Homo sapiens: one gene and its partners. The gene in region 4 interacts genetically with the main gene of each other region. Each region holds a gene or a part of one and is shown on either strand. Other genes may lie near its edges. The genes, in order: STRAP, WDR7, SACM1L and EGFR.

Region 1 (7,065 bases), on a different chromosome or scaffold from region 4:
GAAATAAATTAACAGCATTTGCAGTGACCTGGATGAGATCGGAGACTATTATTCTAAGTGAAGTAACTCAGGAATGGAAAACGAAACATCGTATGTTCTCACTGATAAGTGAGAGCTAAGCTATGAGGACGCAAAGGCATAAGAATGATACAATGGACTTTGGGGACTTGGAGGGAGGAGTGGGAGGGGGGACGAGGGATTAAAAGACTACACATATGGTGCAGTGTATACTGCTTAGGTGATATGTGCACCAAAGTCTCACAAATCACCACTAAAGAACTTACTCATGTAACCAAATACTAACTGTACCCCAATAACTTATGGAAAAATAAAAATAATAATTTTAAAAACGTCATTGCCCCTCCCCCCCAAAAACTGGAACTTTTATTTGCAATTGTATTGAAACTGTAAATCATTTTGGAGATGTATTTGTTTTCTAGGTCTGCCATAACAGATGTTGGTGGCTTAAACAATGGAAATTTATTTTCTCACAGTTCTAGAGGCTAGAAGTCCAAGACTAAGGTCTGTAAATTTCCTTTCTTCTCTGAGGCCTTTCCCCATGACTTGCAGATGGCCACCTTCTCACTCTGTCCTCATCTGGTCATTCCTTTGTGTTGTCTGTGTCCTCATCTCCTCTTCTCAATAAAGATAACTGTTGCATTGGATTAAGGCCCACCCATATGACCTAATTTTACCTTACTTATCCAAATACAGTCACATTCTGAGATAGTGAGGATTAGGACTTTAACATAGGAATTTGGAGGAGGGGAACCCAATTCAGTCCATAACAGGAGAGCACTGATATTTTCCCAAAATTGAACCTGCCAACCCACAAACACAATATATCCATTTTCCATTTATTTTAATATTATTTAATGCCTTTAATAGAGAACGATACATTTTGCTGAGAGGCATTAAATAATATTGAACATCATGTTGGGTATTCCTTTATTTAACGAGATCCCCTTTTCTCCTTTTTGTACTATGGTTTAAGTCCTAGAAGGTTGACATTTATGGACCCCATTAAAGGGCTCCCTTGTCTTCTGGGCTCTGGCTGGGTTTGACCAATGGGAAGCATGGGAGATCTAAAAGTAGATATTCATTTCCCCACTTCTTCCCCATGGCTGTGCTGATGATAATTGGGAGCAGTTGTGTTCTTCTACTGATTATTCCAGCTCTCGCCCAGAGCCTTCTCCTGCAACCGTACCTTTCTCAAATAAATCAGGTTCAGATAACTGCTCCCTTTCAGTTTCTCATTCAGATCTATGGTTAGTGCCCTATTTTCTCCTTGTTGTTTACTTTTGATCCTGGCCACACTTCTGTAACTAATCCCTTCATTACACTGCTCTCAACTTCTACATTTCAGCGTGCCAGTTTTTTTTCTGCTGGGGAGTACACTTTGTTTTTTTATTCCTATGTACTTTATAATTCTTGATGCTATTTAACATGGCATATTTTAAAATTACATTTTTTGTTGTTGCTAATGTATAGAAATGTGATTTCTTCATTACACTTAAAACAACAACAACAACAACAACAAAACCCAGTAACCTAGGCATCGCACCCAGCCTGGGTAACATAGTGAGACTTCATCTCTTCTAAAAAAAGAAAAAAACAACTTCAGTAACCTTTCTAAATTCTCTCATTAATTCCAATAATTTTTATTTTTATTTTTTTCTTTTGAGACATGGTCTTACCTCATTGTCCAGGCTGCAGTGCAGTGGCAGAAATTGGGCTTATTGCAGCCATGAACTTCTGGGCTCAAGCGATCCTCCTGCCTCAGTGTCCCGTGTAGCTGGGATCACAGTAGTGTACCACCATGCCTGGCTAATTTTTTTATTTTTTTGTAGAGCCTGGGTCTCACTTTGTTGCCCAGACTGGTCTTGAACTCCTGGGCTGGAGTGATCCTCCCATCTCAGCCACCCAAAGTACTGGGAACTGGAATTACAGGCATGAGCCACCACACCTTGCCTCTTTTCTTTGTATATAACCTCTAAAACAATTTCTAATCACAGATTTACAACTTTCTTTGGAAGATTTATGCATTTTTAAGTTACCTGAACATCTAGTACGATGCTGTATTGAAGAGGCAGTAGCAATCATCTGTCTCGTACCTAATCTAATACAGAATGCTTTCTGTATTTCACCATTAGGTGTGGGGTTTCAGATATTCTATGAGGTTAAAAAAGTCCCTTCTATTTCTAGTGTCTCAGAATTCTTATAAGTGAAAGAATGCTGAATTCTATCAAAAACTTCTTACACATCTTTTGATATGATTTTCTTTAATCTTTTAATATTGTTAATTATATCAATTACATTAACCTGTCTTCTAATATTAAATTGACCTTGAAGCCTACCCAATTGGTCATAATACACAATACTCTTAGAACTCAGAATCCAAATGAGCAGGAAATAATACATTCTTTAGAGCCAAGTATGTACCATAACTTACCAATTATATTCTTATCTACACACAATGAGCAATAAATGAACATGTATCAGTATCTGACCAGTTGTGTCATTTTGAGTGGGTCTTTTATTTACCTCCATCAGTAATGCAACAATCTATTTAATCAGTAAACAGTCATGCTGAGTATTCACTAAATGCCATTCACTTTTCTGGCACTAGAGTACAAATGACAAAGCCATAACCATTGCCATTAAGGAGTTCATAAATGTGTGAGTGGTGCGTATGTGTGAGACAAAAGGGAGAGGATGGCACAAAGGAGGAGTCGAACAAGATAAAATGAAAAACATATATAGTAAGTGCTTTACCGTAAGTGAATGAACGAGAGTACTAAGGAAAAAGAATGGAGACGTATTTCAAGTTCTCACGTTGTTTGACTCGAATCTTGTAGACGGTGTTTGCTGCAAAAAGATGAAGAAAACATTCACAGACATTTATGTTGATTACATATTTATTGCTATGTGCCCAGACGTTTTGACCTTGGGGATAAAGTAGCAAAGAAAACACAAAAATCTCTGTTGTATTGGGTTTACATTCTATCAATAAAGATACAACTTGCCCAGAGAAAAGCCCTCTCCTGGTTAGGAAACAGTATCAACAATTAACAGCTCTGGTGGTTTCACAGAGCCACAGTGGGCTGCCTGCTGCAGACAATATCAGAGTTTGTTTATATTTAAATATTATTTTAATATTTCTATTTTTGTCCATGTATTATAATGCACATCTATGTAATTTGCAAATCATCACTCATATATACATCATATCAAAAGGTGTAAAAGTTTTTGATAGAATTCAGCATTCATTCGCTTATAAAATGAGTGAAGGCTCACTTTACGGATGAGAGTATTTCATCAAAAAAATTGGGGATCTACGACTCTAGAGTTCTCCGAAGTCCACCAAGGAAAAAGTAACTTGAATTTAATCGCATTTAAAACTATATAGTATCCACTCCTAAAACATTAGCAACATAGGAAAACTTACACAGCGGAAGAAATGACTGGGGATTTTTTTTTTTTTTTTAATACATGGTCTCGCTCTGTTGCCCAGGCTGGAGTGCGGTGGCGCGAGCACCGCTTACTGCGGTGTCGACCTCTCGGGCTCGAGTTATCCTCCCACCTCAGCCTTCCAAGTAGGTGGGACCACAGGCACCACCACTCCAAGCCCGTATATGGTTTTTAAATAAGACAAATTGCAAAAAACGTTGCCAGACAGCGTTCGCTGGTTTGGGCCGTCACTGGGTATGGCTCGTGTCCGTCTAGATATTCAGAGGCCGAGCACAGTCCTCAGTAGGGCTGCTCGGCAGGTACACAGCTGACGCTGGTCCTTGGACTTATGGGAGTGGGAACAACTTTCAACTCGGCCGCGGACCAGGAAGGCGTTCTGACCCGCTAGAGCTCGGGGACAGGGACCCCATCCCGGTGCCTAGAGCGTCTCCCTTAGTCGGCGTGGGCCAGCGCCAGTTACCTCACGAGCACTGAACTAGCGCCTGCGCCCTTCTATACTTCTCGCTCTTTCTTCAAGTCACTTCTACCCGGCGAGCCCGCCCTCCCGCCAATCGTCATTTCCGGCGGGTGCTCTGCGTCATTTACGTCGTCACTTCCTGCCGATGCCGGTGTGGACGCTGTGAATCGTGGCTGGCCCGGTTCTCCGCTTCTCCCCATCCCCTACTTTCCTCCCTCCCTCCCTTTCCCTCCCTCGTCGACTGTTGCTTGCTGGTCGCAGACTCCCTGACCCCTCCCTCACCCCTCCCTAACCTCGGTGCCACCGGATTGCCCTTCTTTTCCTGTTGCCCAGCCCAGCCCTAGTGTCAGGGCGGGGGCCTGGAGCAGCCCGAGGCACTGCAGCAGAAGAGAGAAAAGACAACGACGACCCTCAGCTCGCCAGTCCGGTCGCTGGCTTCGCCGCCGCCATGGCAATGAGACAGACGCCGCTCACCTGCTCTGGCCACACGCGACCCGTGGTTGATTTGGCCTTCAGTGGCATCACGCCTTATGGGTATTTCTTAATCAGCGCTTGCAAAGGTGAGCAAGGCCGCAATCCTGGTCCTCGACGGCTGGGACTGGGCTGAAAGGGATCGGGACCCGCACGCTCCAGTGCCGAAGCGGTGGTGTGGTGAGGGGGGAGGGGGCGATATTAACATCTGAGATGAGAGCCAACACTGGTCCGGTGGAGAAAGGAGTGTGTTAGGGAATCCGCAGCTGGAGCCGAGAGGACGCTTTTGTAGAAACTATTACCTCCAACTAAGACCTCTCTCCTTATTTTATTTTTATTGCTATTTTTGAAGGAGCTGGTCAGCATTTGCCTAGACTCTCGGGACAACACGGTAAATAGCTTTCAAGGATTTGGGGAAAGGAGAAATTAGGCCAGGCCGTGCAATACCTTACAAAGACGTTCGCTCTTGTCTCACTGGATATTCCTTTGTGGTATTAGCCTCATTTTTCAAATGGGAAACTGAGATTCAGGCTAAGATGTCTGTCCAAAATAAGACTAAAATCTAGATTGTTTTGACGCAGATCAGTATTCCCAGCCAATTACAGATGCTTTTCAGAGAGAATGATCTGTTCAGCTCTTCAGTTAATTTATTACTGCACATTCCTTAGTGCCTTCAGTGGGTGGTGGTAGTTAAATAGCTGAAACAATTTTTCCACTTTGTCATTGAACATCATTGTATATTTACATTTGAATCTTAGACTTTAAGTAATCTGAACTTATAAATTACATGTTTTAAAAAATATTTTCTAGATGGTAAACCTATGCTACGCCAGGGAGATACAGGAGACTGGATTGGAACATTTTTGGGTCATAAAGGTGCTGTTTGGGGTGCAACACTGAATAAGGATGCCACCAAAGCAGCTACAGCAGCTGCAGATTTCACAGCGTAAGTGTAGCCAAGATGGCTAACTTTGGTGTTCTCTGTAGCTTGTGTCCTGAAATAATCAAAAACTTCAGTGTCAGATATTCATAAAATTCTGACTCACTGGCTGCCATACAGAACGCATGTTTGATCCCACCAAAATTCCATCGTGGTCCATCGTGGTCCTGTGTGCTTCTTTGTCTTCAGTGGTTCTCAAAATTTTCAGAGGCCTAAATGACTTATTCCGTATATTTTGATTGAGACTCAGGAATCTGCATTAACAAACGCACCAGATAATGAATGTTGATCTCCTTTACGAATGCTGCTCTGTGTGTACTCCTTAGTGATATCCTACATTGATGGCCCTAGGTTTTTATTTCAATCCCGGTTTTTGTTAACTGGCTTTAGGCATCATTAAAACTCATTGTGTCAAAAACAAACAAACAAAAAAACAACAAAAAAACAAAACTCAGCTGCTCGTCATTTCCTAAGTTTTTAAAGGTTGAAATCTAAAGCATTCTTGATTTTCCCTTATATCTAGATTATCATCATCTTTTTTGATTCTGCCAGCGGGATGTCTCCTGACTCCAATGTTCCTTCATGTAGTAACTGTGGCTGCCTTAGTTCAGGATCATTTTTAACTTTCAGTAGTTTCTTTTCCTCCTATTCATTTTCCATATTGTTGCCAGTTGTCTTCCTAAAAACATACTTGATCATGTCACTTCTCTACTAATGATCTTCCTGTCTTCCCTTTGCCATTTTAGTAGTTCATGACCTTTGATGTACATTAGAATATCTGGAGAGCTTTTCAAATATTCAAATGGTATGAGTCCCAGAAATTCGGATTTTTAAAACTTTTTTTTTTTTTTACTTTTTTACTATATATTTATATTTTATACTTTTTACTACATTTAAAAATATTTTTTAATACTTTTTACTATACAGACAGTATCTAGCTATGTTGTCCAGGCTGTCTTAAACTCTTGGCCTCCATGCCTCAGCCTCTCAAAGAGCTGGGGTTACGGGGGTGAACTACTGTGCCTGGTACAGAAATTCTGGTTTGATTGGTCTGGGGATGGAGTACTGGTCATACTGATTATTGGTGTTTTTTTATTTTTCTTTCTTCCTTTTCTTTCCTGATGTGCAGTCATAGAATTGCTGACCTAAAGGACACATTTCAATTGTTGGCCCTTTACAGTTTGCTTCATCCTAGTTCATCAGCATCATCCTCTGCCATTGCACACCATAAACCTACAATCTAATTATACTAATCTTATTGTTGCCAGAATATACCTTACCTGTTCTGACTTTTGGCGGTTAATTATGTTATTAAACTGACTTGCAGTGGCCCTCGTTGCCTTTTTGGGAATGTATCATATTTTATAAATCTTGTTATCTCCAGTTCCTACTTGGTATTTGTAACTTAGGAATTTGACACTTCATTGTTTAAACTGATGAAGGCAATATCAAGAACTGTTGTGCATACACAGATTTATTAGACTTAAGAGGCTAGAGAGTACAAGTGGTGTTTTTTTTTTTTTTTTTTTTTTTTTAAAGACAGAGTCTTGCTATGTCCCCAAGGCTGGAGTGCGGTGGCACAGTCTCGGCTCACTGCAACCTCCACCTCCCGGGTTCAAGTGATTCTCCCACCTCAGCTTCCTGAGAGGCTGGGACTACAGGTGCACGCCACCACGCCTGGCTAATTTTTGTATATTTAGTAGAGACGGGGTTTCGCCATGTTGGC
Region 2 (7,028 bases), on a different chromosome or scaffold from region 4:
CTCTTCTGCTTATGCTGTATCCATCACCAACCTACAGCAATTTCAAGAGTTACTGATTAAGCTAAAAGCCCATTATGCCCACCAAGACCTTACTTTTTAAAGGAAATTCCATTTGGTTGAACCAACTTCGACTTTCTCCTGCCACCCACCTCTAATCTCATTTGCATCTCCAGTCATTCCAATTTCTTCCCTTAGGTTGCCATCAAAAGTCTAAACTGAGCACTGAACTTTCTCGTTGTATATAAATTGAATTAAACAGAAAAAGAAGAAACAAACATGCTTCCCCAAATTTGAAGCTGAATTGTCACATTAGTCTTGGAATCACTAAAATAAGATGGGCAACTGTGAAGGTATGAAAGTCACACTAACTAGAGAGGAACCCAGCTCTCCATTTCCATTTTAAACTCTGAGGAAATATGTGATGTCTCAAGTTAAACTTCTCATTTGTAACATTACCCTCCTCCTGCTCTGCCTGTCACAAAAACTGCCCTTGACAAGGTCACCAATGACCTCCCCACTGTTAAATCCATTATCAAGTTCTAACCCTTATCTTACTTGACCTACCAGCAATTTGACATAGTTCATATTCCGTCTTTGAAATAAATACTTCTTTACCTGGCCTCAAAGTCTTCACTTTTTCCTGACTTTCCTTCTTCTTCTCTAGCTTTAGTCTCCTTTCTTTCTTTTCTTTCTTTTTTTTTTTTTTTAACCTTTAAATATTGGCATTCCCACAACTTAGTCCTTAGACTTCTCTTCTCTGGCAACACTCCCTCCCTCAATGATCTCATCAAGCCTCATTGCTTTAAACCATCTATAGGTTGAGTATCCTTTATCTGAAACACTTGGGATCAGAAGTGTTTTAGATTTTGGATTTTTTTCAAATTTGGGGATATTTGTATTATACTTACAGGTTGAGCATCTCTAATCTGAAAAATCTAAAATGCAAAATGCTCCAATGAGCATTTCTTTGGAGTGTCATGTTTATGCTCAAGAGTTTTGGATTTTGGAGCATTTTGGATTGCAGATTTTGACAGTTCCCCAGTTTATTGTGTGGGATGCTTTTCTGAAATCCAAATCAGTATGTCCAGCTTCCTACTCAACATCTCCTTTTGGATAGCTAATAAGTTTCTCAAACTTGGCATGTCCAAAAGTGAGCCCCTGATCATTCCTCAATGGTGCCCCTCCCACAGTCTACCCATCTTAGTTATTGGCAACTCCAGTTTTATAGCTACACAGACCAAAATCCTAGAATCATCTTTAGTTACTCTATTACTCTCTCACACATACACATTCCACATCCCAATCCATCAGTAAACTCCACTGGCTATACCTTCAAATCATATCCAGAATCCTGCAACATCTCAACACTTTCACTACAACCACCCTATTCTCAATCAGCATCTTCCATCAGGGATAACACAACAGCCCTCTAACTGGTCTCCCTGTTTCCATCTTTGCTCCCCTGCAGTCTCAACACAGCATATAGAGTGACACTATTAAAAAAAAAAATCATGCTGTGATCACATCTCAAAATCTTCCAATGGCTTCCTGTCTCACACATAGCAAAAGCCAACTCTACATACAACTGCCTATCCTATATGAGTGAGGTGGTTGTTCTCTCCCTTGCTTACTCTTTTCCATCTGCTCTGATTCATTGGTGTTGCTCAAAGATACTAAACAGAATCTTACCTCAGAACAGTGTCCCCCACCCCAGATTCCTTCTGGCACACTCCTTTGCCCTCTTCAAATCTCTATAAAATATTACCTTTTTAGTGAAGAGTTTCCTGACCATCATAAATTGCAAAATCTACCACTCAAACTAAACACTTACAATCATTTAACATACCATATGTTTTATTTATTTATCATCTGCCTCTCCTGGTGTATGTTCTATGATGGTAAAGATCTGTGTTTGGTTTCTTCTCTATTGTATTCCCAGTGCCTAAAATTCCTTCCACATAGAAGGAATCCAAATACTTGAATAAATAAACAAACTAGTGAATGAAATATGTTTGCGTTGGTTTAAGTAAAGTTGCACCCATCAGCAAATTAAAGTATATCCCGATTTTATATGTTTTGGATTTCACAGGGCAGTTTCTTGTCAACTAGTTCTTCTATAATAATGTCAACAATTAATACAAGCCTCCTTAATCAAAATGTCATTAACATATTGTTTTTTTCCCCAGCTACAGGTTTTACCTACGCTCCTGCCTCTTTTAGTCTATCGTGACATATACACAGCAAAATATATCTTAGGGCCTATGAAGCAAATTAGCTGACATAATCACTACTACAGTCACTAAGGCCTAGTAATTAATCACAACACTGTTTCTTAAAAGTAAGTACAGGGGGCCGGGCGCGGTGGCTCAAGCCTATAATCCCAGCACTTTGGGAGGCCAAAGCTGGCAGATCACAAGATCAGGAGTTCAAGACCAGCCTGGCCAACATGGTGAAACCCCATCTCTACTAAAAAAAAAATACAAAAATTAGCTGGGCACAGTGGTGCACGCCTGTAGTCCCAGCTACTCAGGAGGCTGGGGCAGGAGAATCGCTTGAACCCAGGAAGTGGAGGTTGCAGTGAGCCAAGATCATGCCACTGCACTCCAGTCTGAGCAACAGAGTGAGACTCTGTCGTTAAAAAAAAGTAAGTAAGTACAGTGATATTTCATTCGTGTGAATTTTTTGCTCCAACTAATGGAAGTTTATACTGTTTATTTGTATTTGAAACATTTAGAAAAAAGAAGAGCCTTTAAGGAAGATAGCTTAAATGTGAAATAAACTTGAATGTGAAAACAGAAGGTAACTGGCTCACTCTATCAGTCTGTTATCACTGACATATACCAACTACCAACATTCAGAGAGAAACATGATGTGCAAAAAACTATCTTCAGTGAGCTTGTAGGGTCATAAATTACAACTGCTAAGCTGAATGGGAGACTGCATTTTCAAAGTCATGTATTTCCAGGCTGGGCGCAGTGGCTCATGACTAATTCCAGTACTTTGGGAGGCCGAGGCAGGCAGATCACTTGAGGTCAGGAGTTTGAGACCAGCCAGGCCAACATGGTGAAACCCTGTCTCTAATAAAAATACAAAAATTAGTTGGGTGTGGTGGTGCACACCTGTAATCCCAGCTACTTGGGAGGCTGAGGCAGAAAAATTGCTTGAACCGGGGAGGCAGAGGTTGCAGTGAGCCGAGATCATACCACTGCACTCTAGCCTGGGCGACAGAGCGAGATTCTGTGTCAAAAACAAAACAAAACAAAAAAACAAAGTCACATATCTCCAGAAATGTTATATTTTAAAGAGCCTACAGAATAACGCTTAGCACTTCAGAAATCTTCCCTCCCCTAAACTGACCAGTGCCCTAACATTCGTTGTTCCAACATTTTATGGCTCCCACTAACTCAAGTAATCAACAGCCAAAAAAAAAAACCCCTGTAATTTCATTAAACGTCACCAACATAGTTTGAAAAAAAATCCAATTTTATTTAAAATAGTAAATACTTCATGAATGTAATATATATGTTCCTTAATAGAAAGGAAGTAAAAATTTCCTTGGACTCACAAGGACTTTCTGAATGCAGTCATGATGTAGGATTTCTTCTTCCAACATAATTGTTTGTGTTCTTTTGTATTCAGCAAAGCAGCTTTAAGAATCAGATACAGACAAAGACAAACGAACCATATGGATGGAATTCAAATTGTAAGTTAACATTACTATCATAGTACCTGTCAGTGAGAACATGTCCTCTTATTGATGGCAGAATTTCACTGAGCTATCCATAGCTCTCAGCTGATTTTGCCTATGATCAATGGCATGCACATATGTAAGACTATTAATTCTTCAAAAAGTGCATGAATTAAATGGACAAAAATGAGAACAGAACCTACAAACCTCACTAACTCCATAATTTAATTGCCAGGCATGGTGGCTCACGCCTGTAATCCCAGCACTTCAGGAGGCCTAGGTGGGAGGATAACCTGAGGTCAGGAGTTTGAGACCAACCTGGTGAAACCCCATCTCTACTAAAAATACAAAAATTGGCCGGGTGTCCTGGCGGGCACCTGTAATCCCAGCTACTAGGGAGGCTGAGGCAGGAGAAACGCTTGAACTTGGGAGTTGGAGGTTGCAGTGAGCTGAGATCACACCACTGCACTCCAGCCTGGGCAACAGAGTGAGACTCCATCTAAAAAAAAAAAAAAAGTCCCAACAAATTAAAAAACTGTCACAGGGAGATGTAACAGATAAACCCAGGAATAAAGGCACTACATAGTTCCAGGCCTCACTCTACACGCACTAAAATTACTTCAAGATTTACACTATGAATTTTGATTTCTGTCTAGTAGAACACAAAAAGACAAAGGTAGATTATCAATATATGAAAATCAATAGCATTTTCTTGTATCAGCACTAATCTACTTAAAAAATAGTATACCATTCACAGTATTTTTATAAACTACAATATTTTACTCAAAGTCATAAGTGAAAGACCATTCCATGTTCTCAGATAAAATGTCCTAATATTATAAAGATATCAATTTTCCTCAAAATAAATCTGTAAGTCAAAGTTCTACTGGTATTGTTTTTAGAAACTCAAACTAACTCTAAAATACATAGGAAAGAATAAAAATACATAAATAGCTGAGCCAAACTTTGAAAATGGGCAAAGATGAGAGAAAGTGCTCTACCAGATATTTAACATCACTAGCTAATTTGGGAAATGCAAATTAAGACCACACTGAGATATCATCACACATCAGAACAGTTAAAAAAAAAAAAAATAGTGGCCGGGCGCAGTGGCTCACATCTATAATCCTAGCACTTTGGGAGGCTGAGGCGGGCAGATTGCCTGAGCTCAGGAGTTCGAGACCAGCTTGGGCAACATGGTAAAACCCCATCTCTACTAAAATGCAAAAAATTAACTAGGTGTGGTGGCATGCGCTTGTAGTCCCAGCTACTCGGGAGGCTGAGGCAGGAGAATTGCTTGAATCTGGGAGGCGGAGGTTGCACTGAGCCAAGATTGCGCCACTGCACTCCAGCCTGGGTGACAGAGCAAGACTCCATCTCCAAAAAAAAAAAAAAAAACAGTGACAGTATCAAATGCTAGTGGAAGACGATGCAAAGAAATGCAATCTCTCATACATTCCTGGTAGAAATGTAAAATGGTACAACCACTCCAGAAAACACTTTGGGAGTTACTTCAAAAACTAAACATACACTTACCATACCATCCAGCAACCATGTCCCTGGGCATTTATCCCCCAAAAAATGAAAATTTAAATCCATACGCACACACACACACAAAACTGTACAAGAATGTTCACAGCAGCTTTATCTGTAACAGCCAAAAATTAAAAACAGCCCAGATATGCAGGTGAATGGTTAAACTTGGATACATACGTACCATGGAATACTACTCAACAATTAAGAAGTACAAACTATTGATAAATGCAACAATTTGGATGAACCTCAAGAACTGTCTCATTCAACAATGTTGATGAATCTCAAGAACTGTCTCATTCAACAATTTGGATGAATCTCAATTTCAAAAGATTACATGCTATAGGATTCCATTTATATAGCACTCTGGTAATGACAAAATTATAGAGATAGAAACTGATTAAACTGATTAAGGGATGGTGAGGGTAAGGGAGGTGGATGAAACTAGAAAGAGGTAACATGAAGAAAATCTTTGTAGTGATAGAATAGTTCCATATCTTCTTCCTCTTTTTTTTTTTTTTTTTTTGAGACAGGGTCTTACTCTGTCCCAGGCTAGAGTGCAGTGGCATAATCACAGCTCACTGCAGCTTCAACCTTCCCAGGCTTAGGTGATCCTCCCACCTCAGCCCCCCAAGTAGCTGGGACTACAGGCATGCACAACCACACCAGACTAATTTTCGTATTTTTTGCCAGAGACGGGGTTTTGACATGTTGCTGGTCTCAAACTCCTGGGCTCAAGCAATCTGCCTACCTCAGCCTCCCAAAGTGCTGGGACTACGGGCATGGTCAACCACATCAGCCTAGCTCTGTATCTTGATTGCAGAGGTAGTTGCAGGAATCCACACAGGTGATAAAATGGCACAGAACTATACACAGGCATTGTACAAAATCAATTTATTGGTTTTGATACTGTACTACAGTGGTATAAATTGTAACTATTGAGGGAAGTTCCTTGGGTGAAGCTGCATAAAATGTAACCACTGGAGGAAACCAGACCTCTCTTTACTATTTGTGCAACTTCCTATGAACCTATAATTATATCAAAATAAAGTTAAAACAAAATAAATGGGAAGAGTTATTTATATAGGAGGAAAAAACATACTACTACAAAACCATAGAGTTAAAACAGTATAGTGTTAGAGCAAGAACAGACAAACCAAAGGAAAGGACTCAATATTCAGAGTATATATGAGCACTTAATACACAGTGTGACACCATATCTATGGGAAAAGGGAAGAAAGATGCCAGGAAAACTGGCACAGTACATGGAAAATAAACTGGATCACAAACTTGTGACACATAAAAAGTTAAACTCTGCATGTATTAAAGACCAATAAGTTTAAAAGAAAACTATGAATTAGCAGTACATAACATAGCAGAGTAACTTTGTGGCACAGCACTGGGGAAAGATTTCTTAAACAAAACCTCCAAAATACAACCATATAGCCAAAAGATTTTTTAATTTGATTATATCAAAATATAAGATTTCTGTTCAATGAAGAACATCATGAGAAAGATTACAGACAAATGACAGATTAGGAACAGATACACTTGTAATACTTAAATGATTAGTATCTATGGAATACAAGAAATGTCCGCAAATCAACAAGAAAGAACTGAAACCCCAAAATAAAAATGGGTGAAGGGATGAACAGGCAATTTCACAAACAAAAAATTAAAAAAGATAAAACACACATGAAGAAATACTCAGATTCGGCAGGGCACGCTGGCTCATGCCTGTAATCCCAGCACTTTGGGAGGCTGAGGCAGGCAGATCACAAGGTCAAGAGATCGAGACCATCCTGGC
Region 3 (7,267 bases), on a different chromosome or scaffold from region 4:
AGGCTGAGGCTGCAGTGAGCTGAGCTCACACCACTGCACTCCAGCCTGGGTGACAAGTGAGACCCTGTCTCACAAAAATAATAAAAAAAAAAAAAAACTCTCTTTCAAACCTTACAATAATCCTGTGAAGTATCAACATTCCCATTTTACAGACTGAAACACCAATTCAGAAGGATTAAGTACTATGCCCAGGACACAAAACAAGTAGTCAAGTTAAGATATGAATCCATATCCATTCTGACTAACAAAACCTGAGATCTCTTGGCTCTACCATGGATGTGACCAGTATGTAAAGAGAACAGAGAGGAAGAAGGCATTCTGGGTAGAAGGATCAAAATAACACCCAAGTTTGAAGCTAGAAGGGGATGAGCCAAGTTTTGCAGAAGTGGGGAAAAGGCTCTGGGCAGTTACGGGAAATAAATTAGGCGACAGATTATAAAAAGGCTAGAATATACAGATGGCTAAGAAATGCAAGTTTGATCCTATAGGTCAGTAAGATGGAACTGGAAATTGTAAGCAGGAAAGTAGAGGATAAAACCAGAGCATTAGAAAGGTGAAATTCAACAAGGCAGAGATGGGCTGGAGAAAAAGCATGGCATAATGCAGACAGAATTATTATTTAAAATCCGAAGTAGGACAGGTGTGGTGGTGTGCATCTGTAGTCCTAGCTCCTCGAGAGGCTGAGGTGGGAGGCTCGCTTGAGACTAGGAGTTAGAGGCTGCAGTGAGCTATGATCAAACCACTGTACTCCAGCCTGGGCAACAGAATGAGACCCCATCTCTTTAAAGACAAAACGAAACAAAAGAAAAAAAAAACAAGCATTTCAACATTTAAATAAATCCTTTTAGCAATCCTTTTGTAATAAAATAATCGAACTATCTCTTTTGCATGGATATTTCTTAAAACACATCTCCAGACACATTTTAAAAAATGGCTACTATCTCCTACCAATTCTTACACAGAAACCAATTTCACTTCTAAATGCATCCAAAAAAGAATACTCCTTAGGGCAGGAGCCACATTTGAAAACCTTCAACAGCAGCCTCAGAGCAGGAAGGGCCAAAAGGAAGGAATAAAAATGGAAACTCTAACTCATAAACCCCTTGGTAAAGAAAAAGGTGCAAAAAAGTTGTACCTTCACATTTACAGAAACACTCTAAACTTTTTTTTCAGGGGGAAAAAAAGCTAGGACTGACAAATGAGAGAATGACTTTCACATAACCCCAGTTTGACTTTATCACCCAAATAATTTAAGAGTTTCCACTTCTCACAAAAATCAATACAAAAACATCATTCTTACTACTTCAGGGACAAATTTCCTTTCTCTTTTATGTATGCGAGGATTTGGGTTTGTTTTAAGGTCTGAACTGGTTAAATTTAGTGTTCTGGCAGCTGAAAAACAATCATCATAATTCTCAAGTTCTCCATCCTATTCAATCTTTGCCACGCTAAGCTGCATGAAGCCATGGCTCCATATGGCTTAAACACATTTGAGACCTGGTGTAGGATCACATTAAACCCTTCAGTGCCTATCAGATACACAATAACCTAATTAGCTAGCAGAGCACATGTGACAGTGGCCTGGCCAGAAACGCAGTGGAAGACACTTCCTTCAACTCTTTCACCAAAGACGAGGTGAGCACTTTGCAAAGGGGAACTGGGAGAAAATAGGGAAAGGTGGAGAGGAAAATGTGGAGGGAAGTGTGCAGCTAGGGTTTTCAAAGAACATTACAGTAAACAGAAATGGCACCCACAGGGGGTGCACTGTAGAAAAAGCAATCATCTTTTTTGCAACACATACAATGTGGAATAGATGACCTCTCTGAATTTTGCACCTCTAACTTTCCACTGAACCTTTCAGAAAGTTACTAGTGAGGTTGAGGTCTGAGGAGCTTAAGTGCCCAAACCACATTTTGGTGTCATTTCCCTGCAAAAGAAATGCGGTATCTATGCCTAACTGCCAAGGTATTTTAGCTCATATACAGGGATAGATAAGCTTCTAAAAAATTACATTTGTTTCTCCTACCAGATATTCCCAGGCTGTGGCCACCAGATTTTCAAACAGCCTAGGGGTAAAGCATTAAACACGAAGTGAGTACAACAAAATTATTCACAGACAAGAAAAGTGTGGATGCTAATGGGTAACACTAAGGGAAATAAACACATGTTGTTTTTAATCCAAGACAAACCAAAACCCTTAAAAACACCTATTTTATAACTCTTAACAACCACAGCCTCTGTATCAAAGACTCAAGAACTTGGATTTACCGAAAAGTCAATTTGCAGTACCAAAATTACCGAGATTAGCCTCTGGCTGTCGACACTGACTTAAGAACCTGCTTTAGGCTGGAGCTGTTTAAAATTTAAACCAAAGTAAACTCCTTCAGGACCTTAAGACTACTGACTGTACTTTAAATTTTTTCTGCACACTGAAGAGGGGGCAGGCAGGCTTCGGTACCCAGATAGGCTGTAAGCAAAACAAAGATTTGTTGATTTGTGCGTAGACTCTAAATTGCTGCTGTAGGTCCGTTAAGTAAGAGAAAACTCTTTTTCTCTGTTAAGTCATACAGATAAATTTAGTCGGTAGCTCTGCATAGAAAGTGGGGACAAGCGTGCCCTGAAGGGCCGCATCATAACGCCGACCCCGGCTCGGTGGGGGCCAGTCGGCAGCTTCTCTCTTCAGCCGTGGGCGCTGGGGCCGAGCACGGTGGAGAAAGGCCGGCGAGCCGCTGGTTCCCGGCCTATGGCTACTCGGGCGAGGCCTAGGAGAGGCCGCGCCGGCTGAGGAAAACCGGTAAATGCGAGGAGCTCCCACACCCTATCTGCAATCCGGGACTCAGAAGCCCTCCCCGAGGCCAGGGCCCGCACCTGCCGCCCCGCCCGCCGCGCCTCAGGCCTCTGGCCCGTGGGACTCACAGCTTCAGCTGCTCGTAGGCCGCCGTCGCCATCCTGCACAACCACCTCCTTCCTTCTCTCTCCGCCCGCCCCGCCCCGCGCCGCCACCTCGGCTACAACTCTACCGGTCACCCTGGCACAGCGGCCGCAGCTCCCAGCCTCTTCCCACCCCTTTCCCCGCCCCGCAGGAGAGCCGGCCTGAACGGGAGGCGGTGGAGGACAAATTAGTGCGCAAGCAAGAGCACGCGAGAGATGCCGCCGACGCGGCGGGTTGGAGTGCGACGAAGAGCGCCGTGACGAAGCCGCTGCGGATTGGTGGGGCGCGTTTTGGGGAAAGGCAGAGCAGCGGGAGCGCGGCGCAAGGGCAAAATGGATCGTTGGTACCCGGAAGCCCGTTCAAACTGTATAAGGGTGATCAGCTATCACGGAGAAGGCTTTAGCAAGTCGGGGCCAGTGGCGCAATGGATAACGCGTCTGACTACGGATCAGAAGATTCTAGGTTCGACTCCTGGCTGGCTCGCGATGTCTGTTTTGCCACACTTGACCCATGTACTACTGGGTCTTGTAAAGATGTATATTCACAATGTGAAAGTATTACAAGACCTTGGAAAGGTGTATGGTTAGAATGTGAAAGTTAAATATCTGAAATTTTGATGCCGCTTTGCTCACAATGTCATCCTTTATCCTTTAAACCTGGAGTTGTCTGAGGTGGTTTGCAAACTGCAAAGCGCCCTGTTCCCAATGATGCACCTGAGAAGTCTGTAAATGGGGTAAATTTAGGCAAACACACCTGGAAAAGTGGCATTTTGGAGTGGGGAATGCTGTGGCCGGAGGTTAGCAACCGGATGATGCAAAAGCGTATTTAAGGCAGCAGTTCTGGCCTTTCCCCGCCACGGAGCAGAAGCCCCCATAGTGATGTGAGAAGCGGCGCTGTCCCAGTTTACTAGGATGGGATGGGCTTTGGATCTAACCAGCAGCGAAGAAAACCTGCGGTGCGGCTGCGCTCGGTAGTAGGGGTCCACAAAGCGTCAGAATCTGCAGCAGCCCCGGCCTTTGCGAGCTCCAGCTCCGAAGTCAACCCGGCCCCCAAATTCCACTGGGAAACCTTAAGACACCGGTGTTTTTACCGTAAGAAGACCTCAGGTAATCTAGTATATTACCCCTCATTGTATGGATGCGCGACTTGGACACCCGAGAAGGCGCGAAACGTCTGCGGCCTAAAGGGACTCGAACCGGGGGATTATATGAGTCATCGGACACTGTCCGTTAACCAATCACTCAATCGATCAATTAATTTCCGCAACATAACGTTTTCCCCTGATAAAATTATAGATTTTTAAAATATATAAAATTATTGGGAATATTAACGCGATTCCCACCCTAAATCATTACTATTATTTTTTTTTTCCTTAAAGCCTTTTTTTCTTCTATATTTTTTAACATGGGCATACTTGCACATGTGTTTTTCCAAATTGGGGTTGTACGGAAATGGGTTCCTCATTTTGTCTCCTTACCTTTTTGTCTGAGATTTAAGGTCATTAAATATTCTTTGAAGATATTTCATCAGAGAGCTAGATATTTTAAGCAGAATCCTTATGCTGGGAATTTGGGTGGTTGTCAGTTTAACACCTAGAAAAAATGATGCTGCTTAGGAGTTCGAGACCAGCCTGGGCAACATAGCAAGACCTCATCTCTATTTACTAAATAAATAAATAAATTTTAATTAGCCAGGTGTGGTGGTGTGCACCTATAGTCCTAGCTACTCAGGAGGCTGAGGTGGGAGGATCACCTCAGCCCAGGAGGTTGAGGCTGCAGTGAGCTGTTACCATGCCACTGCACTCCAGCCTGAGCAACAGAATGAGACCCTGTGTTGAATTATTATTATTTTGAGACGGAGTCTCGCTCTGTCACCCAGGCTGGAGTGCAGTGGCGTGATCTCGGCTTACTGCAGTCTCTGCCTCCCGGGTTCAAGCAATTCTCCTGCTTCAGCCTCCCAAGTAACTGGGACTACAGGTGTGTGCCACCACGCCCGACTAATTTTTTGTATTTTTTAGTAGAGACGGGGTTTCACCGTGTTAGCAAGGATGGTCTTGATCTACTGATCTCGTGATCCGCCCACCTCAGCCTCCCAAAGTGCTGGGGTTAGATGTGAGCCACTGTGCCCGGCCGAATTATTTGTCTTACAAATTTCTAGAGGTGGAACGACCAGGTGGACATCTGTAAGGTCCATTTTATGGACATTTTTAAGACTTTTGTTACTTTCTGACTGCCCTCCAAAAAATTAAACCAAAACACACTTCCATCAACAGCACCTGTTTCTCTGTTTTCGTGCATGCTAACCAACACTGGCTATTATAAATTTAACCGTGATTTGCAATTTTCATAATTGGAATATGGAACTTCCTTTTACATGTACTTTATATATTTTCTCTTGATGTATTGAATTTTTTCTTACAAATTTGATTTTTTAATATATTAAGGGTATTAACTCTTAAATACGTTGCAATCTTTTTTCCAGCTTATGATTTACCTTTTCAAAATTTTTTTAACGGCTGGGCACGGTGGCTCATGCCTGTAATCCCAGTGCTTTGGGAGGCCAAGGCAGGTGGATCTCTTGAGGTCAGGAGTTCGAGACCCGCCTGGCCAACATGGTGAAACCCTCTCTCTATTTAAAAATACAAAAATTAGCAAGGCATGGTGGTGTGTGCCTGTAGTCCCAGCCACTCAGGAGGCTGAGGCAGGAGAATTGCTTGAACCTGGGAGGTGGAGGCTGCAGTTGGCTGAGATCACGTCACTGCACTCCAGCCTGGGTGACACAGTGAAACTCTGTCTCAAAAAAAAAAAAAAAAAAAAAATATATATATATATATATATATATATATTTGAACTTGTAGTAATTTTCACTTTATATATTCACACTTACTAATATTTGGTTTCTTCTATTATATGATTTTTTAATGTTTTGTTCTTATGTTGTTTTTACCATTTACTTTAATCCATTTGTCATTTATTTTGTTGCCATTTATCATGATGTAAAGATCAATTAATCTTAAAACCTGACACACTTTATTGAGCAATTACTTCATGCCAGAAACTGCTCTAATTCCCTTACTTGGATGAATTCAATCATTCCTTACAACAATTGTTGTACCTGAGCGAGTTAGAAAAACGCCACACTTTAAGACGAATTAAGAGTCCTTTATTAGCCAGCGACCGAGAGACGGCTAACACTCAAAATTTTCTCAGCCCTGAGGAAAGGGCTAGATTTTCTTTTATACTTTGGTTTAGAAAGGGGAGGGGGGGGTCTAGTTAAAACAATTTTACAGAAATAAAGTAGGCAAAAAGTTAAAAGGATAAATGGTTACAGGAAAGTAAACAGTTCCAGGTGCAGGGGCTTTAAGACTATTACAAGGTGATAGACCCGGGGCTTTGGGCGTTATCAATCAGACGAATTCCTGGGAATTGCGGATATAGCTTGCCACAGTATCTTATCAGTTAATTGCATTCTTGGATGTGCTGGGAGTCAGCTTGCACAAGTTAAGTCCTTGAGGAAGGGGTGCCAGTGAAAGAGCCAAGATGGAGTCTGTCTGGCTGTCTTAGCTAAGGGAGAGTCAATTCAGGTGGAAACAAGGCTAGGTGATTAAAGGAAGAGGGAGAGTCTAAAAACAGGGTTAGTAAAAACAAGGTTGGGCATTACACAATCCCATGAGGTAAATTCAGTTGTTATCCCCATTTTTACAGATGAGGGAACTAAATTGGCTTAAGGTCATGGAGCAATTGAGTTATGAAGCCTGAGATAGAATGTGAGTCTGGGCTCTTGACTCCAAGGCCGTCCTGCCCTGTGGACTCACTGTACCCCAGAAGACACCGCATGAGTAGGTTCAAGGACAATTCCCTGTCTGGGCATGGACGGCAGTCACATCTGCCACTTACCCCTCACCCCTACTAATTAGCAACAAGAAGACCCCATTTCTAGTCCTTATGATGCTTTTACCCACTATCTCTGGGCTCTTGGACATTTCCTCTCCTTTAATAAAATAGGGGTTTAAGTTGCAGCCTGTCTCATAGGCTTTAGGGGGAAAAGAAATGCTTCCATATGAGCAACTGCCACCCATTGTCATGTAGAAGGAACTAAGAGAGGCAAAGTTTGACGTTTCTTTACCAGTTGGGAACCATAAACCAAGGCCTTTGTGACATTCAGTGAGACTGAAAACCAGAAAATAATCTGGCAGAAACCCCATTCTTCTGGGGTTTTTAAAGGCCAAACAAGCCAAAATCAGATTCCAAGGAAACCAATGTTCAGGATAAGGAACCAGCCAATGATGGGTAATATAAATTCATATCTGTAGCCAAGTTTTTCCTATAGTAAAAT
Region 4 (7,028 bases):
AATTTGTGAGGAATGTATAACAAATGTTTCTTAAAGCATGAATCCTCTTCTTGAATTCTTGTTTTTATGAAAGCCATCCAACTACTTACTCAATCCTCTTGAAATCTGCCTTTTGTAATGTAACTGATAGGCCAGCGTTTTCTTTCACTGTGGGAAATAAAGGCTACTTGGTTGCTTTAGGGAGGGCAACAATGTCAGCTGCATAAGCAGCAAGAATATTATATTTTATTACTAGTCCACCCTTAATAAAGAGAGAAACCTTAGGAAATGGAAAGAGGTGTCTGTTTTATATTTCCTTTGCTTTTCAACCATTGTTTAGACACTCTCCCTTCTAGTGCTTGGAGAACCTTCATGGAAACTCTGTTCAGGTTCTTGACTCTCAGCGACAGATGTGGAGGTCTTTGTGTCTTAGCTCTCTAGGCCTGAGAATCACATACACCTGCAGAATTTGCCTCCAAGTCCATGTCCTTGTGGCTAATCCCTAGGCCAGTAGTTCTCAACTTTGGCCGCACATTGGAATGACCTCAGGAGCTTTAAAAACTACGAATGCTTGGGTTTCAGCCCCAGAGATTTGCGTTTAATCGGTCTGAGGTGTAGCTGGGCTTCAAGCTTTTAAAAGCTCCTCAGGTGATGTCACTGCAGCCAGGGCTGAATAACTTCTCTAGGGTGGCTGGGCCCAGGCTTGGTAAGACTGTTGGTGAACTAACCAAAGTGTGCTGAACATTATTAGGCTCTCCAGACATGTCTAGTTTATACTGGTAAATGCATATCAATTGTAAATATAAAAATAAAATTTGCATTGAAGTCACATTATATATATAAACCAACAAAGTGCTATGTTATTGCTTTTCTTACATGTACAGGGTTACACTGGCAGATGATGAGAGTATGGCATGCAACTGGATTTTTCTAGTAGTAACAACAGTGAGCCCTTTCCATTAACACTGCCCCAACAGAACCTGCCTCAGACCAAGCTAAATGTGCTTTCCATCATCTTTTAAAATTTCCTAAATATAAAAACGATGCTTCTCTTCTTCACCATGACAATGACCTAGCTTAGCTCCCCAATGAGGTTGTGCCTTTTTATAAGAGAGAGAAAGGGCTTTCCTCTTGCCTCAACTTAACCCTTTTAAACAAAGATTTCAGTTTCAAATTTTGATTCTATTGCAGTCTCTCTAAAGTAAACTGTGTTTGTTTTAGTAGAAAAATGAGTTTCTAAAAATATATTGTACAAAGTTCAGTGCTACATAAAGAGAACTATATCCCGCAACAAAGTTACAAAAATAGATTTACATTTAAAAATCCTGTCTGTGTCTTCAATAGTACAAAGCTGTACCCCTGGTATGGCAGGTGTGGCTGGTGAAAGAGGCAAGGATTTCTGTTCTGTAAGGTTTTACAGCCCCCAGGCAAGGAAATGTGAGCAGATCATTATGTTGCAATAAAAGTGTGTGCTTATCACAAGAAAGAAATGCAGAGTAGACATTGAGGGCAATTTCAACAGGTGTTGCCTACGTGGAATAGCAGCTCACTCACAAAGGAGGGAAGAGACTGGTTTCTATAACTTACTTAGAGAATGCAGAGGGTCCCAGGGCGTTTTCAAAGCTCAGGTGGGGGTATTTGCCCCTTTCCAGCTGAACTGCTGGTGAGGATGAATTGAACGCTTTTGAAATGAGCCAAGTCTCAGGCTTATCAGTGACTGCAGATTGTTCTCTCCACTGCACATGGGAATCTCTACCCTACCCAGCCTTTTATTCTACTCTGACGGGGGCTCTGGTACAGACCCACAGTCTTGTACAACTGAAGACCCTAGAAATAAGGGTTTCAACCCTGGTTGCCCATTAGAATCATGAAAGAGCCCCCGAGATTTGGGTTGAATTGGTCTGCAGAGACTCCAGGCCCCTTCTTTTGAAGCTCCACAGATGATTCTTTTCTGCCTGAGGGGAGGTGCTGAGTTCCCATCACCCACCAGCTTCATCCTACACAAGTGCAATCAGAGGCCTAGTGAGAGTGGCACTGGGGGGTGGCCCCCCAGCGAGTGCCAAGTAGATCCCACCAGGCCCTTCCTTTAGGCCAGAGGTTCTAGAAACTTTGATGAATGTTGCAATAACCAGGGGGTGCTCTGAAAAGGCCCTACGGCTGGGCTGCACCTGAGAAAATCAAGCCACAGTCTTTCTGGTTGGGACCAGAAGATTCCCAAGGGCAGCCGCCCTTGAGAACCAGTGCCTTTCCTGCTAAGCAATCCATAGTCCCCTTATGTCTGCAGTTGTGAGGCAGGGGTGGTAAGTCACAACATCAAGAACTTTCAGCAAACACCTAAGCTTTGGTGTCATCAGCTGGAGTGCAATAGGATGCATCCACAGTGCTCCCCCTTACAACCTGGACTCACAGCGAATATAGAGTTTAGAAGACTCATCCCTTCTCTGATCCCTCATGGGGTGACGGGCATGGTGTAATTAGAGGAGCTCCTTAGAGATGATGCAAGAAGATGCACGAAGGCTGGCGGCACCTATGAATGTGAGCTCTCAGCTCCTTACTTTCCTTCGACCTCTGTTTCCAAAGACCACATCTGAAGCTGGGGTCATGGGGTAAGGTCTTCCAGGAACTGACTGAGGAAGAAACAGCCAATGGACAGGCTTTCTGTAGGGTATTAAGGCCAGGCTATCAATCAGGAAGACCTTCAGGGATGGAGTCCAAGCTTTGAGTACTGACTGATCAGGGCTGTTAGGTGAAAATCATGGGACTTTGGGCAGCTCCTCTCCTGACCTGCCCATCACAGTCGCCAGATCCGTGAAGAGGCTAAGGGCTTTGCGGCTTCTACCAGACAGAACTGTGCCTCCCTGGACAGATGAAGTGAGAACTATTTTGGGAAGCACAATCTTAAAATTAATAGAATTTAGCAACTAAACTTTATGGTGGAAAATTAAAATATGAAGAAGAAAGCTAGAATAGCTTTTGCTCTTTTATTAAGTTACTGTTTCAAACTACAAAAATACTAGAATTTAATGCTACAATGTGACTCACTTACAACTGACCTGCCTCATCGATCATCTGCTTCTTGACACATAAGTGACAGCAGAATGTAGGTCCTTCTGTTTCCCAGTTCTGACTGAAATATTTCTGCATGTCCTGAGGTGAATGAATAATGAAAGTGGTTAACTGACAATATAAAATCTCAGATTCTTAGAAATGTTGTGTAGTCTTCTCACTAAGCATGTGCAGAGATGATAGCTCAAAATCCCCCTGGGGGCTGCAACTTTTAGGGAACTTGTGGGATGCTCCAAGCTCATCCCCTGGCTTAGAGGGAGCAGGTTGTTTAGGGTGACTGACCTCAGCCTTATGTGGACTTTAGCAGTGGAGGCCTCTGGCAGCTGTTTCCTCGGTCAGGGTGCCCCTGATGCACCTGCACTTTCCACCTCCCCGCTGACTGAGACCTGGTCATCCTCCTGTGAGGCCTCCCTTCCAGGTCTCCTCAGGCAGGACCCAACCTCCCTGCTCTGTGCTCTCACAGTGCCTGGCTGATGGGTCCTGTCTGGCATTTGTCACGTTGTTTTAAGGTTAGCATCTATGAGTCCATTTCCTTTGCTAAATTGTGAATTTCTTAGAATCAGGGACTATGTTTTATTTATCTTTGTATCTTTCATACCCATACCAGGCTAGTATAGATGCTTAGGGGTATTTGAGAGCATAATAGAGTGGAAATGAATATAGTTTTATTTTCATTGAGACAAAAATCAAATACTTTCTTAACAATGCTGTAGGGGCTCTGACTGATCTGGGAGTCAAAAATTACTTTAAAAGCAAAAGGAACATTTTGTATGTGTGTGTGACTGAACATAACTGTAGGCTGAAAATATTTTCTGAACCATTTCTTCCTTGATAAATTGGATGGGGTGGATATTGACTAGGAGAGTTTAAAACACTGTTTACAAAGGACTGCTGTTAACCAGTCAGGTTACAGGGCACACACAGATTAGGAAAAAAGGTGGGCTCCTAACTAGCTGAATCTTCCAATCTTCCAATTGTAGAGAAATTATTTTAGGAAGGAACTTTTTTCCTTCTAAAACATCTGCAAATGTTGTGAAAGCATTATCAATTTCAAACCCTAGTTTCATATTTACTACCTGAATTCCACACTACTCATAATGCTACTGTCATTCGCACCTGTAAAATGCCCTGTTGTGGCCAGAGCTGTAAGTGCTTGAATAGATGACTCAAGGCAGAGACACTTTTTGTGTGACAAAGCGTAAGGAGGGGGTTTGGGGGCAGCTGACCTGGAGGGAACATATACTCTTTGAGTAAAAAGCTTTTGAAGTGAAGTAAAAGGAGAAAACTATCTTCCATAAGTAACACAAACTAATTTTGGGGGGTTGGGGTGATGGCTAAAGGAGATTTCAGAGCAGCTTCATTTTTGTAGTCTTCTGATCTATGCCCCAAAGGACCTGATGCATTTCATCTGAGCCTCAAATTAGGAGATACGTTTTTGCGAGAACAAAAGCGGTGCTATCCTTAGGTATTCCACATTCTCAGCTGTGGGCTATTGGTCCAAATGCTGATGAATCCAATGTGGGCTGGAATCCGAGTTATTATTTGATGTGTCATCCTCTCTTGCTGATTTCATGACAGCAAGACAGGGGCAGCATACTGAGTTTCAAAACAATGGAATGGAAGACAAACAAGTCAGTCTAACGCTCATGACTGGAAACCACTGGTCCATCAGTGGGGAGTAAGTACCGTGGGGACATTTTTACAAAAGTAAGTCTAAGGAAGAATTCCATCCCCTCCGTTTCTTCTTTGCCCAGGAAGGGACAGAGTGGCTTATCCTACTGTACCTGCCATGACTTGATACAGTACCGATCCGGCCTGCTGGGGCCATGAAGGCCTTCTTGGATCTTTAGTGTTTTGCAGTGGAAGCCTTGAAGCAGAACCACTGGAATCAAGCATCCTCTGGAAGACTTGTGGCTTGTGCTCCTTGCTCACAGTTGGGCCTGGATGAACTCAGGGTAGCAAGTGCTACCAGCAAGCTTCTTCCTTGTTGGAAGAGCCCATTGAAGTAAAAATCAATAGCGACAATGAAAAACTCCAAGATCCCCAATCAATAAAAATCCTCACATATACTTTTTTTTTTTTTCAAATATACCTCTTTGAAAGATAAATTTCTGCTCAAAGGGACAATATTCTTGCTGGATGCGTTTCTGTAAATGCTTCACAGTTTGAAGACAAAGGAATGCAACTTCCCAAAATGTGCCCGAGGTGGAAGTACTTCCTGGCTAGTCGGTGTAAACGTTGCAAAACCAGTCTGTGGGTCTAAGAGCTAATGCGGGCATGGCTGTTGGGATGGAGGACCTGCTGTGGCTTGGTCCTGGGTATCGAAAGAGTCTGGATTTTTAGGGCTCATACTATCCTCCGTGGTCATGCTCCAATAAATTCACTGCTTTGTGGCGCGACCCTTAGGTATTCTGCATTTTCAGCTGTGGAGCCCTTAAAGATGCCATTTGGCTTGGCTTCCTTGGGAAAGAAGTCCTGCTGGTAGTCAGGGTTGTCCAGGCTAATTTGGTGGCTGCCTTTCTGGGCCCAGTGGGCAGGGCTGTCGAATGTGCTGTTGACACAGGTGGGCTGGACAGTGTTGAGATACTCGGGGTTGCCCACTGCAGTGCTGTGGGGGTCCTGGTAGTGTGGGTCTCTGCTGGGCGCGGGGTTCAGAGGCTGATTGTGATAGACAGGATTCTGCACAGAGCCAGCGGGCCTTTTGGGAACGGACTGGTTTATGTATTCTGAAAGTGGAAAGAAATCAGAGGTGAAGTAATCAGCAAAGCACCATCCCATGCAGGATCCCTGGGTTCTGAACCCTGTGAATGTCCTCAACAAGGAGACTTATGACAGGGAGCAGGAGCCTCGGGAGGGCCCTCTTGCTGTTGCTGCAAAAGAAAGTGGGTTCTTTCCTGTCCTTCTCAAAGTAATGGACATATGTGTCTTTTGTAAATTTAAAGTTCTCAGAGGATAAACTGCCTTGAGGAGAGTGTGTGTATGTGTGTGTGTATGTGTATGCATGTATACATATATGTGTGATGTGTATGTGGTATGTGTGTCTGGTGTGTGTATATGTGTGTGTATGTGCACCGTGTGTGTGGTGTATGTGTGTGTGGTGTATATTTGTATGTGTGTGTGGTGTGTGCATGTGGGTGTGTGTGGTGTGTGTGTACGTGTGTGTATATGTGGTGTGTGTATACGTGTGTATGTATGGTGTGTGTGGTGTGTATGTGTCTATTGTGTATGTATGTGTGGTATGAGTTGTGTGTGTGTGGTGTGGGTGTGTATGTGGTGTGTCTATGTGTGTCTGTGGTGTGTGTGGTGTGTGTACGTGTGTGTGGTGTGTGTATGTGTATGTATGTGTGGTGTGTGTCTGTGGTGTGTGTGTGGTGTGTGTACGTGTGTGTATGTGTGGTGTGTGTGTGGTGTGTATGTGTGTGGTGTGTATGTGTGTGTGTATATATGCGTATGTGTGGGGTGTATATGTTTGTGTGTGTGTGGGGTTTTTGTGGTGTGTGTGTGGTGTGTGTATTTGTGTGTGTTGTGTGTATATGTGGTGTGTGTGTACATGTGTACATATGGTGTGTGGTGTGTATATGTCTATATGTTTATGCATGTGTGGTGTCTGTGTGGTGTTGGTGTGTATGTGTGCATACATATGTGTATGTGGTGTGTATGTGTGTGTGTGGCGTGTGTACATGTGTGGTGTGTGGATGTGTATGTATGTGTGGTGTGTGTGTGGTGTGTATGTGTGTGTGGTGTGTGTGTACGTTTGTGTATATGTGGTGTGTGTGTACATGTGTATGGTGTGTGTCGTGTGTGTCTGTGTGTATGTGTGTGTGTAGTTGGTGTGTGTAGTTGGTGTGTAAAGAGGTATATCATCTGCCTTAACTTGCATTTTTCTAATAGCTTATAATATTGATAATCTGTTTATATTATATTAGATAGCCAATAAACTATATATTAGATATTACACTAACATATATATAACTTACATATGT

Evidence for each region.
Region 1: changes in EGFR (region 4) and STRAP together harm fitness more than expected from each alone (negative genetic interaction), as found in Homo sapiens cells (2 studies listed by BioGRID).
Region 2: changes in EGFR (region 4) and WDR7 together harm fitness more than expected from each alone (negative genetic interaction), as found in Homo sapiens cells (2 studies listed by BioGRID).
Region 3: changes in EGFR (region 4) and SACM1L together harm fitness more than expected from each alone (negative genetic interaction), as found in Homo sapiens cells (2 studies listed by BioGRID).

What each region holds. Positions count from the first base shown.
Region 1 is NC_000012.12:15,878,332-15,885,396, forward strand, and holds the start of STRAP (serine-threonine kinase receptor-associated protein), read left to right. Parts: upstream 1-4,055; 5' UTR 4,056-4,376; coding exon 4,377-4,488; intron 4,489-5,209; coding exon 5,210-5,345; intron 5,346-7,065. UniProt on the Homo sapiens protein: The SMN complex catalyzes the assembly of small nuclear ribonucleoproteins (snRNPs), the building blocks of the spliceosome, and thereby plays an important role in the splicing of cellular pre-mRNAs.
Region 2 is NC_000018.10:56,654,338-56,661,365, reverse strand, and holds part of WDR7 (WD repeat-containing protein 7), read right to left. Parts: intron 1-7,028.
Region 3 is NC_000003.12:45,685,147-45,692,413, reverse strand, and holds the start of SACM1L (phosphatidylinositol-3-phosphatase SAC1), read right to left. Parts: upstream 3,019-7,267; 5' UTR 2,949-3,018; coding exon 2,917-2,948; intron 2,067-2,916; exon of another isoform or gene 2,027-2,066; intron 1-2,026.
Region 4 is NC_000007.14:55,203,999-55,211,026, reverse strand, and holds part of EGFR (epidermal growth factor receptor isoform a precursor), read right to left. Parts: intron 5,772-7,028; coding exon 5,410-5,771; 3' UTR 1-5,409. UniProt on the Homo sapiens protein: Receptor tyrosine kinase binding ligands of the EGF family and activating several signaling cascades to convert extracellular cues into appropriate cellular responses.